Homo sapiens: one gene and its partner. The protein of the gene in region 1 interacts with the protein of each later gene in a pairwise test. Each region holds a gene or a part of one and is shown on either strand. Other genes may lie near its edges.

Region 1 (7,890 bases):
TGTCTCTCCCCAAGAATTACCCACCCTAAGTAAGATTAGCGACAGCCAGGCTGGGGCTCAGAAATAATATGGGAAATGGTGGGGTCCTGGCATTAGGGGACCTGCCTCACCTCCCCATTCCGGGTCTCAATGGTCTTGATCAGAACCGTCTTCCGGCTGTGGCTGTCCTGGGGAGGCTCCACCTCAGGCACTGAAGAAAGCAGGATAAAGGGTTCAAGGGGGAAGGCGTGGGAATCTCTCCTCTTAGGCTCCCACTGCTATCCCTGAGGGCAGGGGAGGGGCGGGTTTGAGGAGTAGGGGTGGGTACAGGCCAGGACCCAGAAGTTCCGTGGGGAGAAGAGATCCCTGAGGTGAGCCAGAGCAAGAGCCCGAGGAGGGCAGAAGTGGACAAGGAGAGGTACAGGCTGTAAGCCAGACTCACCAGTCGTCTTTATATTTAAGGAGGCAAAAGAATGGACGGGCACGGAGATCCTAGAGGCGAAGCAAGTTGTCAGCGCCCCTGCCCAGGCCCCGCCCTGCCCGGCCCAGTCCCGACCCCGCCCTGCCCCGCCCCAGCAGCTCCACCCTCACCGGCTCTCCTCGCCCTCCAGCAGCTTGCGGTAGGTGGCGATCTCGATGTCCAGGGCCATCTTGACGTTGAGGAGCTCCTGGTACTCCCTCAGGTGCCGCGCCATCTCCTCTTTTAGCTGTCGCAGCTCCTCCTCGAGCCGCGCAGCGCCCGCCTGGTAGCCCCCCGCCTCCAGGGCGAACTGCTCCTCCAGCTCTCTCAACTGCCTGAGCAGCGCCTCGTTCTGGGGTAGGAGAGTGGAAGGGGCCAGTTGCAGAACATTTCATCGTCCGCTCCCCGGGCCCGAGCGCGCAGCTTCGTACTCACCGTGCCGCGCAGCCCGTCCACCTCGCACGTTAGACTCTGGATCTGGCGTCGGGACTCGTTCATCTCCTGCTTGGCCTGGCGCAGGGCCTCGTGGTTCCGGTTGGCAGCGTCGGACAGGTCCGCGTACTGAGAAGTGGGGGTAACCCAGGCTTTAGTCGGCTGGGACGCGCGACACCACCCCAGCGTCCCGCCTCGCAGGCCCTCCCGGCTCTTGCACCTTGGACTTGTACCACTCCTCCGCCTCCTGCAGGTTCTTCGCGGCGATGCTCTCGTACTGCGCGCGGATGTCCCTCAGCGCTGCCGTCAGCTCGGGCTTCACCGTGGCTTCCACCTCCACCTGCTGCACCTGCTGGCTCTCCACACTCACCTGCAGGTCTCGCAGCTCCTACGGCCGGGAGCAGGCAGAGGATGGACAGCGGCGCAAATTCCACGCGGGCCACGCAGTTCGTGCACAGAAAAGAGAAGAAACGCTTGAACGAACAGAAGTGGGCGCCAGGGAGGGCAGGGCGTACAGCCCTGCGCCCCCGCGGGCGCGAGACCAGAGGCCAGGTTTCGGAGGTACAGCCCCGCTGCCCGCCGCCAGGTGGCGCAAGGGTGGGAGTCTAACCACCTGTAGACTAGGGTGGAGGGGCTGCGTCTACCCAGCATCGTCCTGATCCCCAGGGCGATGCCTCCGCTCCACCCGCCAGCTCCAGCGAGACCACCCCACAACCTCAGAAACCGCCCCTGATACCGGGCCCACTTACCTCCTCGTGCAGCTTCTTGAGGAACTCAATCTCATCCATCAGAGACTCAATCTTGCGCTCTAGTTCCAGGCGGGACAGAGTGGCATCGTCCACGTCCTTCGAGGGGTGGCAGTGGAGGTTCAAGATAAGTTAGGGGCTGCGCAGACCAAGGAAGGACCAGGCCTTCCCTGTCTGCCTCAGGAGGCATCTGGGTTACCCCCTTCTCCCCGCGCCCACCGATGCCACCTCTGGATACTGAGATCGGGGGTAGCGGTGGGGAGGCTGAACTCGGAGAGGGGCTCGGACTCACCTTGCGGAAGAGCACGAGGTTGTGCTCCGCGTCCTCCCGCTTGCGCGTCTCCTCCTCCAACCTGACGGGAAGAGCGTGCAGAGGCTGAACTGCGGGGTCGCCGCCCAGCTCGCACCCCAGACCGCACGCCCCCCAGGATCCGGTTAGAGGCTGTTCTGCTGCCCAGGACTCTAAATGGAGGGCTGAGGCTGTCTAATGGAATTGCCCCGCATTGTCTCTAACGGACTGGGAGCTGAAAAGGGGGTTTCCTCATTACTCAGGGGAGGCACAGATACCCACTTCTCCCACCTCCCCAAACACTCAGAGCAAAGGGGTAGCGGGGGGCACTTGGAGCCCGTGGGCAGGGATGCTGCCCGCACACACCTGGGTTGGTAAGGGGAGCCACACCCTTGGGCTGCTGATGGAGAGGGGAAGCGAGGGGAGGCAAGAGCAGCCGCCTCGACGGCCGCTTCGACCTCGCCTCGACGGCAGCGGCCCAGCCCTGCCCCCTGACCTCTGCTTGAGCGCCGCCAGGTCCTCCGCCAGCCCGTCGCGCTCCACCTGCACCCGGTCACGCTCGCGGCCCAACAGCTCCAGCTCTCGCCGCAGCTCGCGCAGCTCCTGCTGGCACAGCTGGTCGGCGCGCGCCGGCTCCTGGCCCCGGGCTTGGCTCAGCTCCCCGCGCAGGGCCGCGTTCTGCTGCTCCAGAAAGCGTACCTTCTCGATGAAGTTGGCGAAGCGGTCGTTGAGCTCCTGCAGCTCCTGCTTCTCGTTGCTGCGCGTGGCCAGGAACTCCTGGTTGAGGGCCTCGGCCATGGAGAAGTCGAGGCGCTCCGAGGGCAGGCGCAGGAGGGCGCCCGCTCCCGCTCGGGGGCTACGGAAGCTGCCCAGGCGCACCGAGGAGCTCGGGGACGCGGAGCCCAGCAGGCGGCTGCTGGAGAAGCGGGAGCTGGACGAGTAGGAGAAGGCCCCGGGGGATAGTGAGGGCGGTGGACCGAAGGTACGGCGGTATGAGGTGGAGCTGAAGCCGGCCCGGAGGCCCGACGGGTGGTGGCTCATTGCGGCCAAGGATGGGCAGTCACCGTTCGCAGAGCTAGGCCGGGGGCTGGGAAGGAGCCGCAGACCGCTGCGAGGCGGCTTTATAGCCCTGCGGTCTCAGGGGGGGCACGGGCAGCTCCTCCCACTGGCCTGATGGCCCGCTGGAGGGGGGTTGTATGGGGAGGGGGATGCCCCACCCCTGCGGAACAGCAGGAGCGCCTTCCCCTCCCTTCCCTGGTTGCAGGCCTCTACCCACTTGATTGCCCCCTGTTGCCGCTGGGGTGGGGGTCACTTCCTCCCAACAAGCACCCAAAGCTAGAACCTAGGGTAGGAAGGCCTGACTTGAACTAGAGTCCCTGAAAATTGCGAGGTAGAAGGACCTGAAGTTAAAGGGCAGGCTTCTGGCACAGGAGTAGGGAGGAGGCCAGCTGGAGGGAGAGTTGACCTGGCTTAGGCCCCATAGCTAGTGCCTTGACTTGCCCCCTGAAGGCCAGGCTCTATTTTCACCTGCTGTCAGCTACCCCTCCTTCACCACACCCAGAGAGGAATAGGAGACAGGGGCGCAGAGGCAGATCGGGCTGGGGAAGAGCTACTCTCCCTAATCCCCAGGGCCCTGTGAAGGGCTGGTGCCTGGCGCCAGCTCTGCTGCTAATGGGCTGACCAGCCCCCCTCCCCCTCCCCTGAAGACGGCCCAGCAGAGGTTGTCTGCTGATGTTTCAGCCTTAAAGACACAGCCCCCAAACCTAGACCTACCCCGCAACAAGCCCCAATGAGGTGGGTACATCATAGGGGGCTGAGGGTGGCTGGACCCAGCTCTGGATCCCACTCGGGAGGGTCTGCCCCATGCCACGGGCTGGGCTAAGTGGGCCTTTTGTATTCTGTCTTGGTTTACTGGATTCTCCCTCCCCCCAACCCCACACCAATTGCTGCTCAGTCATGGGCTTTACAGGAACCAGAGTGATTCCTGAGGTAGGAAGGGGAGGGGGCTGAGGGGCAACAGCGGCTGCCAAGGCTGAGAGATGGATGGACTGGCAGGAGCTGGTTTCCAGTATTGATGAGTTGCAGGTACCAGGGATGGGTGGGGCTGGATGGGGAAGAGATGGGGAAAGAGAAAGTGCCCATCCCCAGCAGTCTGAAAGAGAGAAGGCCCCAGAACAGGTCCACAAACCTGCGCACGCAAACAGATGCATACACACAGCTTTGTATATCTATGCGCACACACACTACATACACACACATACACACACAATCACACATCCCACCACACCCTCCCCTACTCCAGAGTTAGCGAGAAGGCTGATATCTGGCCTTTGTATGTCAAACAGCTTCCAGAATGCAAGCACAACCTGCCCAGGAGTGGACAGAGGCAGCTCGGATGGTCTGCAGGAGCCGGGTTGCTGAGGTCTGCTGGGTTTGCCAGGAACCATAGGGCTGGGGCTGCTGCTGCTGCTGGGGACTCCAGCGCTGTCCTGTGAGACAGGTCTGCCTCAGATGGGACCTGAGGACAAGAGAGTGCATCTGGGGAAGCAGGTTTCAGGTTCCTGCCTGGATATCTGGCTGGGGGTAAGGAGGGCGGCTCCCTGGCTGGCCAGCTCCTCAGTATTGCAGGGCAGCAGCCCCCTCCCCCCTTTGTGCGTCCTGTGAGATGGGCCAGGGCCAACGCCCTGCTCACGTCCCTACCGCCTTCGTCTCCTTTCCAGGCCCCTCCTTCCTTCCGGGCCATTAGTCTCTCCCTGCACAGCTGCCAGTTCCTTCTCCTTGATGGGTCTGGTTTGGTTGCCAGGGGAGTGGGAAGCGGGAGGAAGGGAGAGATGGGACAGGACGAATAAATGACAGCTTGGCCTCCCCTAACTCCTGGGAATTGGGAGGGGTAGGGTCCCACCCGGGATAGGGCCGGGAGGCTTGGTGGGTGTGAGGAGGGGCTAGGGAAGCCTTGGTGCTTCCTGCCGCAGTCCTGGGCACTGAGCCCCAGCTGCTGTTGGCCTGGAGCCCCATCTATCCCGGATTTGGCCCCACCCTCCAGGAGCAGGGAGCCAGCTCTGCATCAGGAGAGGCGGGCAAGGCCTGGGGAGGACCAGCTCAGGCCCTGTCTACAGGGCACTAGTGGGGGACCCAAGCCTCTGAGAGTAGAGGCTGCTGGGGCTGCAGCTGGGCCTGGGGAGTTCCAGATGGAGTTCCCGTCCTCACCCTGCTTAAGGGCTCCGCTGGCCACCTACATGCCTCGGAGGAGAAGGGACAGAGGGCTGCCACAGCAGGGCTCTGGAGCTGTGGATCAGGCCTGGGTGGGGAACTGCCAGGCAGAAGAGGCTCCTCCCCTAAAGCAGAAGGAGCAGGCCAGCAACTCCAGGCGGAGCAAAGGTAGGCAAAGAGTCTGGGTTAAGAGCCGGGCTCTGGCATCCAGCTGCCACACTTCCCATCTGATCCACCACTCTGTTGTAGAATTTAGGCTCGTCACTACGTCCCTTCATGTCCCTCAAGAAAAGGGAGATAACTAACTGTAGCTTCTACCTCATAGTGTTGTTGGGAGGACTAAAGGAATAAATAAATACATGTGAAGTGCTTAGGACACACATCTTAAAGCCTGAAAATGGAAGCTGGTTTTATTATTGCTATTATTATTAACCTCCAGAGTGATAATGTCAGCCCCAAGAGCAGTGAGAGTCTGGGCTTCTTTTGGACTGTGCCCCTGGTTGCTGAAAGTAGTGCTTGGACCCAAGGCGGAAGAAGCCAAGTCCTCCCTGGCCTCATCCTCCCCTGGTGGACCGGGACTCTGGGCAGATGGTGCAGGTTCATTCATGGCTGCTCACCTTAATTAGCTGTGTGCTTTGGGTTTTCTGAGTGACTTAACCTCTGTTCACCCCATTTTCTTTCTTTCTTTCTTTCTCTCTTTCTTTCTTTTTTCTTCCTTTTTTTTTTTTTGAGACATAGTCTCGCTCTGTCGCCCAGGCTGGAGTGCAGTGGCACGATCTCAGCTCACTGCAAGCTCCGCCTCCCGGGTTCACGCCATTCTCCTGCCTCAGCCTCCTGAGTAGCTGGGATGACTGGCGCCTGCTACCACGCCCGGCTAATTTTTTCATATTTTTGGTAGAGACGGTGCTTCACCATGTTAGCTAGGATGGTCTCGATCTCCTGACCGTGATCCACCTGTCTCGGCCTCCCAAAGTGCTGGGATTACAGGCATAAGCCACCGCGCCTGGCCACCCCATTTTCTTTATCCACAAATGGGAATGATAATAACAGTACTTACCTCATGGTGTTGGGAGGATTAAACGAGTTACCCTCTGTAAAGCACTTGTGCTTGGCACCTAGTACATGCTGTAGAAGTATTTGCCAGTATTCTCATCGCTCCTCCTCCTCCTGCCTCCCTTGGCTGCTCTGATGAAGGCTGGAAGAGAAACAACTATTGCATGTGTTCAGGGGTTTGCAGGGAAGGTGAGTAACGAAGTTTAGGTTACTGGCAAGAGTGCTATTTTTAAATTAAATTAAATTAAATTTTTTTTGAGAGAGAGTCTTGCTCTGTTGCCCAGGCTGGAGTGCAGTGGCATGATCTCAGCTCACTGCAACCTCCACCTCCTGGGATCAAGCGATTCTCCTGCCTCAGCCTCCCGAGTAGCTGGGATTACAGGTACCTGCCACCATGCCTGGCTAATTTTTGTACTTTAGTAGAGACGGGGTTTCATTATGTAGGTCAAGCTGGTCTCGAACTCCTGATCTCAAATGGTCCGCCTGCCTCGGCCTCCCAAAGAGCTGGGATTACAGGCGTGAGCCACCACGCCTGGCCAAGAGTGCTATTAAATGTCAGGCCACGGGCTCAAAGCTGGATTAGGAGGGCATGTAGGCAAGAGAGAGTGGGAGATTGGGAGAGTAAAGAGATCCATGGCTGGCCAAAGAACAGTCATAGAACAAAGACATGCCAGTGGAGCACAGTGGTTTACGCCTGTAATCCCAGCACTTTGGGAGGCTGAGGCGGGCGGATCACAAGGTCAGGAGATCAAGACCATCCTGGCTAACATGGTGAAACCCTGTCTCTACTAAAAATACAAAAAATTAGCCGGGCGTGGTGGCGGGCACCTGTAGTCCCAGCTACTGGAGAGGCTGAGGCAGGAGAATGGTGTGAACCCAGGAGGTGGAGCTTGCAGTGAGCGGAGATCGCGCCACTGCACTCCAGCCTGGGTGACAGAGCGAGACTCCATCTCAAAAAACAAACAAACAAATTAGCCGGGCGTGGTAGCATACGCCGGTAATCCCAGCTACTTGGGAGGCTGAGGAAGGAGAATCTATTGAACCCGGGAGGCAGAGGTTGCAGTGAGCCAAGATCGCGCCACTTCACTCCAGCCTGGGCGACAGAGTGAGACTCTGTCTCAAAAAAAAAAAAAAAAAAAAAAAAAAAAGACATGCTAAGCTCCTCCCAGCCTTACCCTCTGCTTCAGCACATCCCTAATACTTGCATCTGTCAGCTGGGGTCTCTGCCTCTCCGGGTCTAGGATTGACACAAACCTCCACTCCAGGCCAGGCGAAGTGGCTCGCACCTGTAATCCCAGCACTTTGGGAGGCCAAAGCAGGCAGATCGCTTGATCCTAGAAGTTCAAGACCAGTCCTGGGCAACATGGAGAAACCCCATCTCTACAAAACACACAAAAATTAGCCAGGCATGGTGGCATACACCTGTAGTCCCAGCTACTTGGAAGGCTGAGGTGGGAGGCTCACCTGAGCCCAGGAGGTCAAGGCTGCTGTGAACTGTGACTACACCACTGTACTCCAGCCCCAGTGACTGAGATCCTATCTCAAAATAAATAAATAAATAACCAGCCAGGCGCTGTGGCTCACGCCTGTAATCCCAGCACGTTGGGAGGCCGAGGCGGGCAGATCATGAGGTCAGATCGAGACCATCCTGGCTAACACGGTGAAACCCCGTCTCTACTAAAAATACAAAAAAGTAAACCGGCATGGTGGCGAGCGCCTGT
Region 2 (7,251 bases), on another chromosome or scaffold:
TGGTGAACAAAATAGACATTGTCTTTGACCTCATGACATTTAGAGTGTAGTGAGGCAAAAAGACATTTAATGAATAATGGGCAATAAATAAATACACAATTTTAATGGTTGTTAATAAAGGGCAAAAAGGAAAATGGGCTTCGGGTGCTTGGTGGCTGCTCCCAATGAGACCACCAGAGAAGGTTTCTGCAAAGAGATGACAGAAGAGCTGAGACCAAAGTATATAGGAATCCAGCCACGCACAGTGGAGGAAGAGCGTTGCAGGCCCAGGGAACAGCATGTGTGGCCCCGAGGTGAGAAAAGCTCTTCCAATTTGAGAAAGTGAAAGGAGCCCAGGGTGATCAAGGTGTGGTGACCGGAGTAGGCAAGGTGGGAGGGTATAGTACTCGGGACCTGTGAACTCAGGAGCTCATCTGGATTTTATTCCAGGGGTGAGCGGTAGGGTAAGGTACCTGATCCTATTTCCATTTTTAAAACACCATTCTAGCTGCAGAGCAGAGGACAGGCTGAGAGGGATAAGATCGGGAAGGGAACACCCGTTCGGGCTGCAGCAGTGTGGCTCAGGCGTGTGATGGTGGTGCAGGTTAGGCAGTGGCAGAGGAGATAAAAGGGGATGGGATAAGTGATATCTTTGGGGACAGAATCAAAGCCACTTCCCAAGAAGCAGTGGAGTTCTAGGGATCCAGTTGTAGTTTCTGTCAAGGTTCATGATGCCAGATCCATGGCTATTTAGGGCTGTGATTCCAGTTGAATTGCTTGACCTCTCTGTGCCTCTATTTCTCCTTGTGCAAAGGAAGCCAAAACTAGTAAAGCTTTTAGTTAGAGCCCAGCACCCAGTAAAGACCACAAAGCAATGCATGACCTAAAAATGGGACTATGTTCTCAGAAACACATCGTTGTATGAACAGCACAGAGAGTATTTACACAAACCTAGATGGTAGAGCCTGCTACATGCCTAGGCTATACGGTCTAGCCTGTTGCTCCTAGGCTACAAACCCATACAGCTTATTATGTTCTGAACACTGTAGGCAATTGTAACACAATGATAATTGCGTGTGTCTTTCAACATAAACTTAGAAAAGGCAAGGTAAATATATGGTATTATAATCTTAGGTGGCCACCATCACATATGTAATTCACTGTTGATCAAAACATTGTTATGGATATATGAGGCAGTTGAAATTATTAATGCAAATGGATTTGAGAGAAAGGAAGGGTCAAGGTTGATTTCAAAGCCGTGACAAAGTCCTCTGCATCAAGCTTTGAGAAGCCCCTGAATCCCAGAGTGTGTTAGAAGCAGATCTTTAATACTTACCAGAGGCCGTAAACTGTATGTAACCTTGACTCATCATTTCCCCCACTGGGAATCGATTCCACGGAAACCATCAAGGACTTCTGCAAAGATGTGAGTAAAGAGATGCCCATCCAGGCGCTGGTTTAACGGTGACGTATGGAGAACTACGTCATCATCCAGTAATAGGACATTGATTAAGTAGATTCTGCTCCATCCATAGGAAGAGATATTATGCAGCCTTTAATATGATGTGGTAAAACTATTAATATGGATATATACCTAGGATATAATGTCATTAAGCGAAAAAGAACCAGCAACAAAACCATATTACCATATAATCCAATTTCCAAAAGTGTGTGTGCAATGGAAAAAATGTCTGGAGAGATAAACAACCAGATATTAGCAGTGGTTATCTCTGGGGGCAAGATTATAAGTTTTTTTTTTTTTTTTAATTCTCTTACCTGAAAATTCTAACTTTACTCCATCCAGTAAGCTTGTATTACTACACGTCAAGATCTCCTGTTTCCCCCCAAATCAGACCTACCTTCTCTGAAGTTCCATGGCCAGAACTGTAAAAGGCTGTCCAAGAGGAGGAAGCATCATTATTGCCTGGATCTTTATCTGTGCTGCTCTCCCAGGGATCCACTGCTGTTTCAGGATCAGCTGGGGAGAGATTCTGGCCATGTATCACCTCCACCCCAAGCCAGGACATCTCAGCTACAGTAAATCCTAAACACCGCCCCAAAGTCATCTCCTTGGTCTATGAACAAGTCATCGCCAAATATCAATTGTCCCCAGCATCACTCCATTGTTTTCAACCAAGAACTGGCATTTCCATAGCACTTCACAGTTTACAAAGGGCCCTGGCCCTTGCTAAGATCTAAGTGTGGTGATCCATCTAGATAGGTTACTAGCCTTTTGGGATTTTTTGTTGTTGTTTGCAGAAAGCCATTTGATACTCTAAAACCACCCTGTGAGAGAGGCTGAATGGGGAGTAGAAAGGTGCCGGCTTTGGAACCAGATTTGGAACAATTTGTCTTGGACAAATGGCTTAACCTCTCTGAACTTCATTTTCCTCTGTAAAAAAGGCTAATCATCCCACTCCTACAAGGTTGCTCTGGGGAAGGAATAGTCTATACGGTGCCCAGTAGAATACGGAAGGCGCTCAATACAGAGTTAGCATGATTATTTTTAGACCCATTTTCTAGATGGGGAAGCCAAGGCTCAGAAGGGTGAGGCAACTTGCCGAAGTCTTCCCAGCTAAAGAGTGGCTGAGTTTGAAAGATGAACCCAGTAGCCTGCCCTCCCAGGCCAGAGTTCACCTGTCGCGCGCTGCACGGCTGCTGCCTCTCTGGACTCTGGAGCCCTGTGACCCGTCCCTCCGCGACCCTCTCTGTCTCCTTACCTGCTCCCTCGGAGCCGCCTCCTCCGCCTCCGTTCGTGCAGCCCTGCACGCATGTGCTTTGTTTTCTGACTTCCCAGGCCCGATTTCCAGGTAGCGTGGGTGGGTCTTATTTGCATAGGTCTTAGCAGCGTTTGGCCAGCTCTCGCTGTTTCAGGTTTTCTTCTTCCTTCTGGTGACTTTGGACCTCCTGTACACCCTGGAAGCTTTGGTTGCTTTGTCTTTCTCCTGTGAGTCACTCTGGCTTTTTCTCTGAGGGGATCAAGTGCGCTCATCCTTGCAGGCCTCTGTTCTGGGTCCGATTGATCTCCTGCCATCCCCTCGGATTCCACTGTCCTCTGTGCGCTGACCTGCCTCGACTCCTGGCTTCTGCCGAGATGGATCCTTCCCTATGCTGAGTCCCTGTAACCAAAATACAGATAGCTCTTGCAAAATACTGACAAAAGCGGCCACTAATACAGCAGAAAAATAGTCGGGAGACGGTTGAGCGTCTGCCTGAAGAGCCAGGGTTCTCAAGCAAGGCACACTTCTAGGTCAGAGTTCAGCCCTCACTGAGAATCCAAACTCCGTTTAACTACCGATGGAGACTTGAGCAAATTAATTAACTTCTGCCAGCCTCAGTTTCCTCACCTGAAAATGGCCATAATAACCTACCTACTTGATCTGTAGATTAAATGAGGTAATACGTGTCGAGATCGCGTAATAACACAGGGCCTGGCAGACAGTAACTCGCTAAATGTTAACCAGAACTATTATTGTTATAACCGGTCTGTTCACGTGGCCCATCTTTTGTTCCCGCTCAAATTCTTTTTGTACCTATGGTCCTCTTTTCTTTCTCTCTCTCTTTCTTTCTTTTTTTTTTTCTTTCTTTTTTTTTTTTTTTTTTAAGACGTAGTTTTGCTCTGTCGCCCAGGCTAGAGTGCAGTGGGGCGATACTGGCTCACTGTAACCCCCACCTCCCTGGTTCCAGCAATTCTCCTGCCACGGCCTCCCGAGTAACTGGGACTACAGGTGCGCGCTACCATGCCCGGCTAATTTTTACATTCTTAGTAGAGACAGGATTTCGCCTTGTTGGCCAGGCTGGTCTCAAACTCCTGACCTCAGGTGATCCACCTGCCTCGACCTCCCAAAGTGCTGAGATTACAGGCATGAGCCACCGCGCCTGGCCCCTTATTTCTTTACTGACATTTTCAGCCATACTTGAGAAATAAACAAGTAAATAAATGTATCTGCTTGGTGATGTAATCAAATGCCCTAGTCCCCGCATTTTGTGTTTTTTTACATTAATTTTTATGTATTGATTTATTTTGAGACAGAGTCTCACTCTATCATCCAGGCTGGGGTGCGGTGGCACGATCACAGCTCACTGCAGCCTCAACCTCCTGGGGTCAAGCAGTCTTCCCACCTCCGCCTCCTGAGTACCTAGGACTACAGGTGCATGCCACCGTGGCTGGCTAATTTTTGTATTTCTTGTAGAGATGGGGTTTCTCCAGGTTGCCTAGGCTGGTCTCAAACTCCTGGGCTCCAGCAATCCACTTGCCAAAAGTGCTAAGATTACACTTGAGCCACCGTGCCCACATTTGATTTTTAAATAGGTAATATATTTACATGGTTGAGCATGTGAATGGTTTGATTTCACAGTGAAAACTGTCTCTTCGCAGCCACCTAGTTTCCCTGGAAATCAAAGTATTATACTATCAGTTTGTTGTGTATCTTTCCAAAGATGTTTTATACATACACAAACAGCATGTCCATGGCAAAACATCTATGTATTCCTTTACCTCCTTTTTACACAAATGTGCATATTATGTACACTGTTCTGCATTTTTCTTTTTTCATTTGATGATGTATTTGAGATATCATTCTGTATTAGTACATAAAGACCTTCTTCGGTTTTTGGCCCAGCGCTGTGACTCACACCTGTAATCCCAGCACTTTGGGAGGCCAAGGCGGGTGGATCACTTGAGGTCAGGAGTTCAAGACCAGCCTGGCCAACATGGTGAAACCCCGTCTCTACTAAAAATACAAAAATTAGCCGGCGTCATGGTGCACACCTGTAGTCCCAGCTACTCAGGAGGCTGAGGCAGGAGAATCGCTTGAACCTGGGAGGCAGAGGTTGCAGTGAGCTGAGATTGTACCACTGCACTCCAGCCTGGGCGACAGAGCAAAAAAAAAAAAAGAAGACCTTCTTCGGTTTTTTAATGGTTGTATCAGATTTCATTGAATGGCTGTACCATAAATCACTTCACCAATCCCCTATTGATCTAACCCCCTCATTATAAATATATAAATATTGAATGAAAGAATAATGCAAAAATGCTGATTTTAAGTTAGCCTAGAATTGTGTGAAAATAAAACTGTGGACTTTGGGAAGTTTTAGATCTCTAAAGAAAATGTCTAAGTAATTCTCCTCTTTCTGAGCTGGAGACGAGGTATATGATCACCGATGGCCTCAAAGTTCCTCTCAGCTCTGGAATTCCCTGCTTTTCGGTGTCACTACTGGTTAACTGAGGTTACTGGGGATTCGAGACACTGATTTAGTCCAAAGAACCTGGTTTGTATTTGAGAGTTTGGAAGTCACGCTTTCTGGCTTGGCAACATAAGAAAACATAAAGAAGTTCATCTACTTTGACCTAATCATGTAATTCCCCAGAAGCATCAAAAAGATATATTTTGGTTGAGTGAGGATATTCATTGCAGTTTTATTTTAATCACAAATGATTGAAAACACTCCAAAACCCCATCAATTAGGTGAAAAACTACATAATCATTTAAAATGATATAGAAAGATTTTCATTGACTTTTAAAAATGGTCACAGTATACTGTAAATGGAGGGGGAAAGCAGCTTAAAAATGGTGCATGTTGGCCGGATACGGTGGCTTACGCCTGTAATCCCAGCACTTTGGGAGGCCGAGGCAGGCGGATCACAAGGTCAGGAGTTTGAGACCAGCCTGGCCAATATGTTGAAACCCCGTCTCTACTAAAAAATACAAAAAAAAAAAAAACTTAGCTGGGCGTGGTGGCAGGTGCCTGTAATCCCAGCTACTTGGGAGGCTAAGGAGGCAGGAGAATCGCTTGAACCTGGGAGGCGGAGGTTGCAGTGAGCCGAGATTGCACCACTGCATTCCAGCCCAGGCAACAGAGAGAGAATCCATCTCAAAAAAAACACAAACAAACAAACCAAAACCAAAACAAAACAAAACAAAAAAACGGTGCATGTTGGCTGGGCACATGCCTATAATCCCAGCACTTTGGGAGGCCGAGGTTGGAGGATTGCTTGAGCCCAGGAGTTCAAGACTAGCGACCCCATTGCTACAAAAAATAAAAAAATAAAAAATTAGCTGGGCGTGGTGGCACATGCCTGTTGTCTCAGATACTCAGAAGGCTGAAGTGGGAGGATCACTTGAGCCCAGAAAGTCAAGGCTGCAGTGAGCCCAGATTGCACCACTGCACTCTAGCCTGGGCAACAGAGCAAAGACCCTGTGAAAGATAGAAAAGAAAAAAAGAAAGAAAAGAAGAAAAGAGAGGGAGAAGGAAGGAAGGAAAGAAGAAGGAAGGAAGGGAGGGAGGGAGGAAGAAAGGAAGGGAGGGAAGGAGGAAGGAAGGAAGGGAGGGAGGGAGGGAGGGGAAGGAAAAGAAAAGAAAAGGAAAGAAAGAGAGAATGTAGCATAAGCCAGATTTTGTAAAGCATAATTTATGTATAAAGACTGCAAGACCATGAGGCAAAATGTCACAATTTTATCTCTGGGTGATGGCCACTCATGTTTTCGCTTTCTTCTTGCTTACATTTTCCAAGTTCTCAAATATGTATTACTTTTGTAGTAAGAAAGTTCACTTAGAAAGTAAGTTAAGTCTGAGTTTTCTGCAACCAGGGTATCCAGAACTTAAAAAGATAAGCAGGTAGGGCAGGTAAGAAGTCAGTCATGACATTGTAAGCATTGAAATAAAAATAAAATAAGTCATAGCCAGGCATGGCCTGTAATCCCAGCACTTTGGGAGGCCGAGGCAGGCAGATCACTTGAGGTCAGGAGTTCGAGGCCAGCCTGGCCAACATGGTGAAACCCCGTCTCTACTAAAAATACAGAAATTAGCCAGGCATGGTGGTGGGTGCCTGTAATCCCAGCTACTCTGCAGGCTGAGGCAGGAGAATCACTTGAACCTAGGAGGCGGAGGTTGCAGTGGGCCGAGATCGCGCCATTGCACTCCAGCCTGGGCGACAAGAGCGAAACTCTGTCTCAGAAAAATAAAATAAAATTTAAAAAGTCATGGCTTTTTTCCAGGTCACTAATTGTCTAGTGAGTCTATGCATTATCATAATGTCTGTGGGTGGTCAGGCTAAGGAGTGCTTTGCCAACAGTGAAAAATTTTTCCAGGGAGATACCCGGGAGAGATAGTGAGGCATCTCAGGAACTTGAGAGTTAAACTAATTTATAAAGTTCATGCTTGTGGGGGCAAGATCAGCCATCTGGAAAAGCACCTCACCTAAGCAGTACCTTAGACCCGGGTGAGTGAAGAGTCATGAGACTCGGTGGAGCCCAGCCAATGTCTGGAGCA

What was found. The genes of interacting proteins can lie anywhere in the genome.
Region 2: the proteins of PRPH (region 1) and RNF183 interact in binary tests that used the Homo sapiens proteins (3 or more experiments, as listed by UniProt).

The regions. Positions count from the first base shown.
Region 1 is NC_000012.12:49,290,258-49,298,147, reverse strand, and holds the start of PRPH (peripherin), read right to left. Parts: upstream 3,002-7,890; 5' UTR 2,948-3,001; coding exon 2,403-2,947; exon of another isoform or gene 1,971-2,402; coding exon 1,910-1,970; exon of another isoform or gene 1,717-1,909; coding exon 1,621-1,716; exon of another isoform or gene 1,564-1,620; intron 1,433-1,563; exon of another isoform or gene 1,260-1,432; coding exon 1,092-1,259; exon of another isoform or gene 1,001-1,091; coding exon 875-1,000; exon of another isoform or gene 792-874; coding exon 571-791; exon of another isoform or gene 472-570; coding exon 422-471; intron 191-421; coding exon 111-190; intron 1-110. UniProt on the Homo sapiens protein: Class-III neuronal intermediate filament protein.
Region 2 is NC_000009.12:113,300,357-113,307,607, forward strand, and holds the start of RNF183 (E3 ubiquitin-protein ligase RNF183), read right to left. Parts: upstream 3,021-7,251; 5' UTR 2,700-3,020; intron 2,694-2,699; exon of another isoform or gene 1,958-2,693; 5' UTR 1,839-1,957; exon of another isoform or gene 1,396-1,838; 5' UTR 1,316-1,395; exon of another isoform or gene 1-1,315. UniProt on the Homo sapiens protein: Acts as an E3 ubiquitin ligase catalyzing the covalent attachment of ubiquitin moieties onto substrate proteins. Triggers apoptosis in response to prolonged ER stress by mediating the polyubiquitination and subsequent proteasomal degradation of BCL2L1.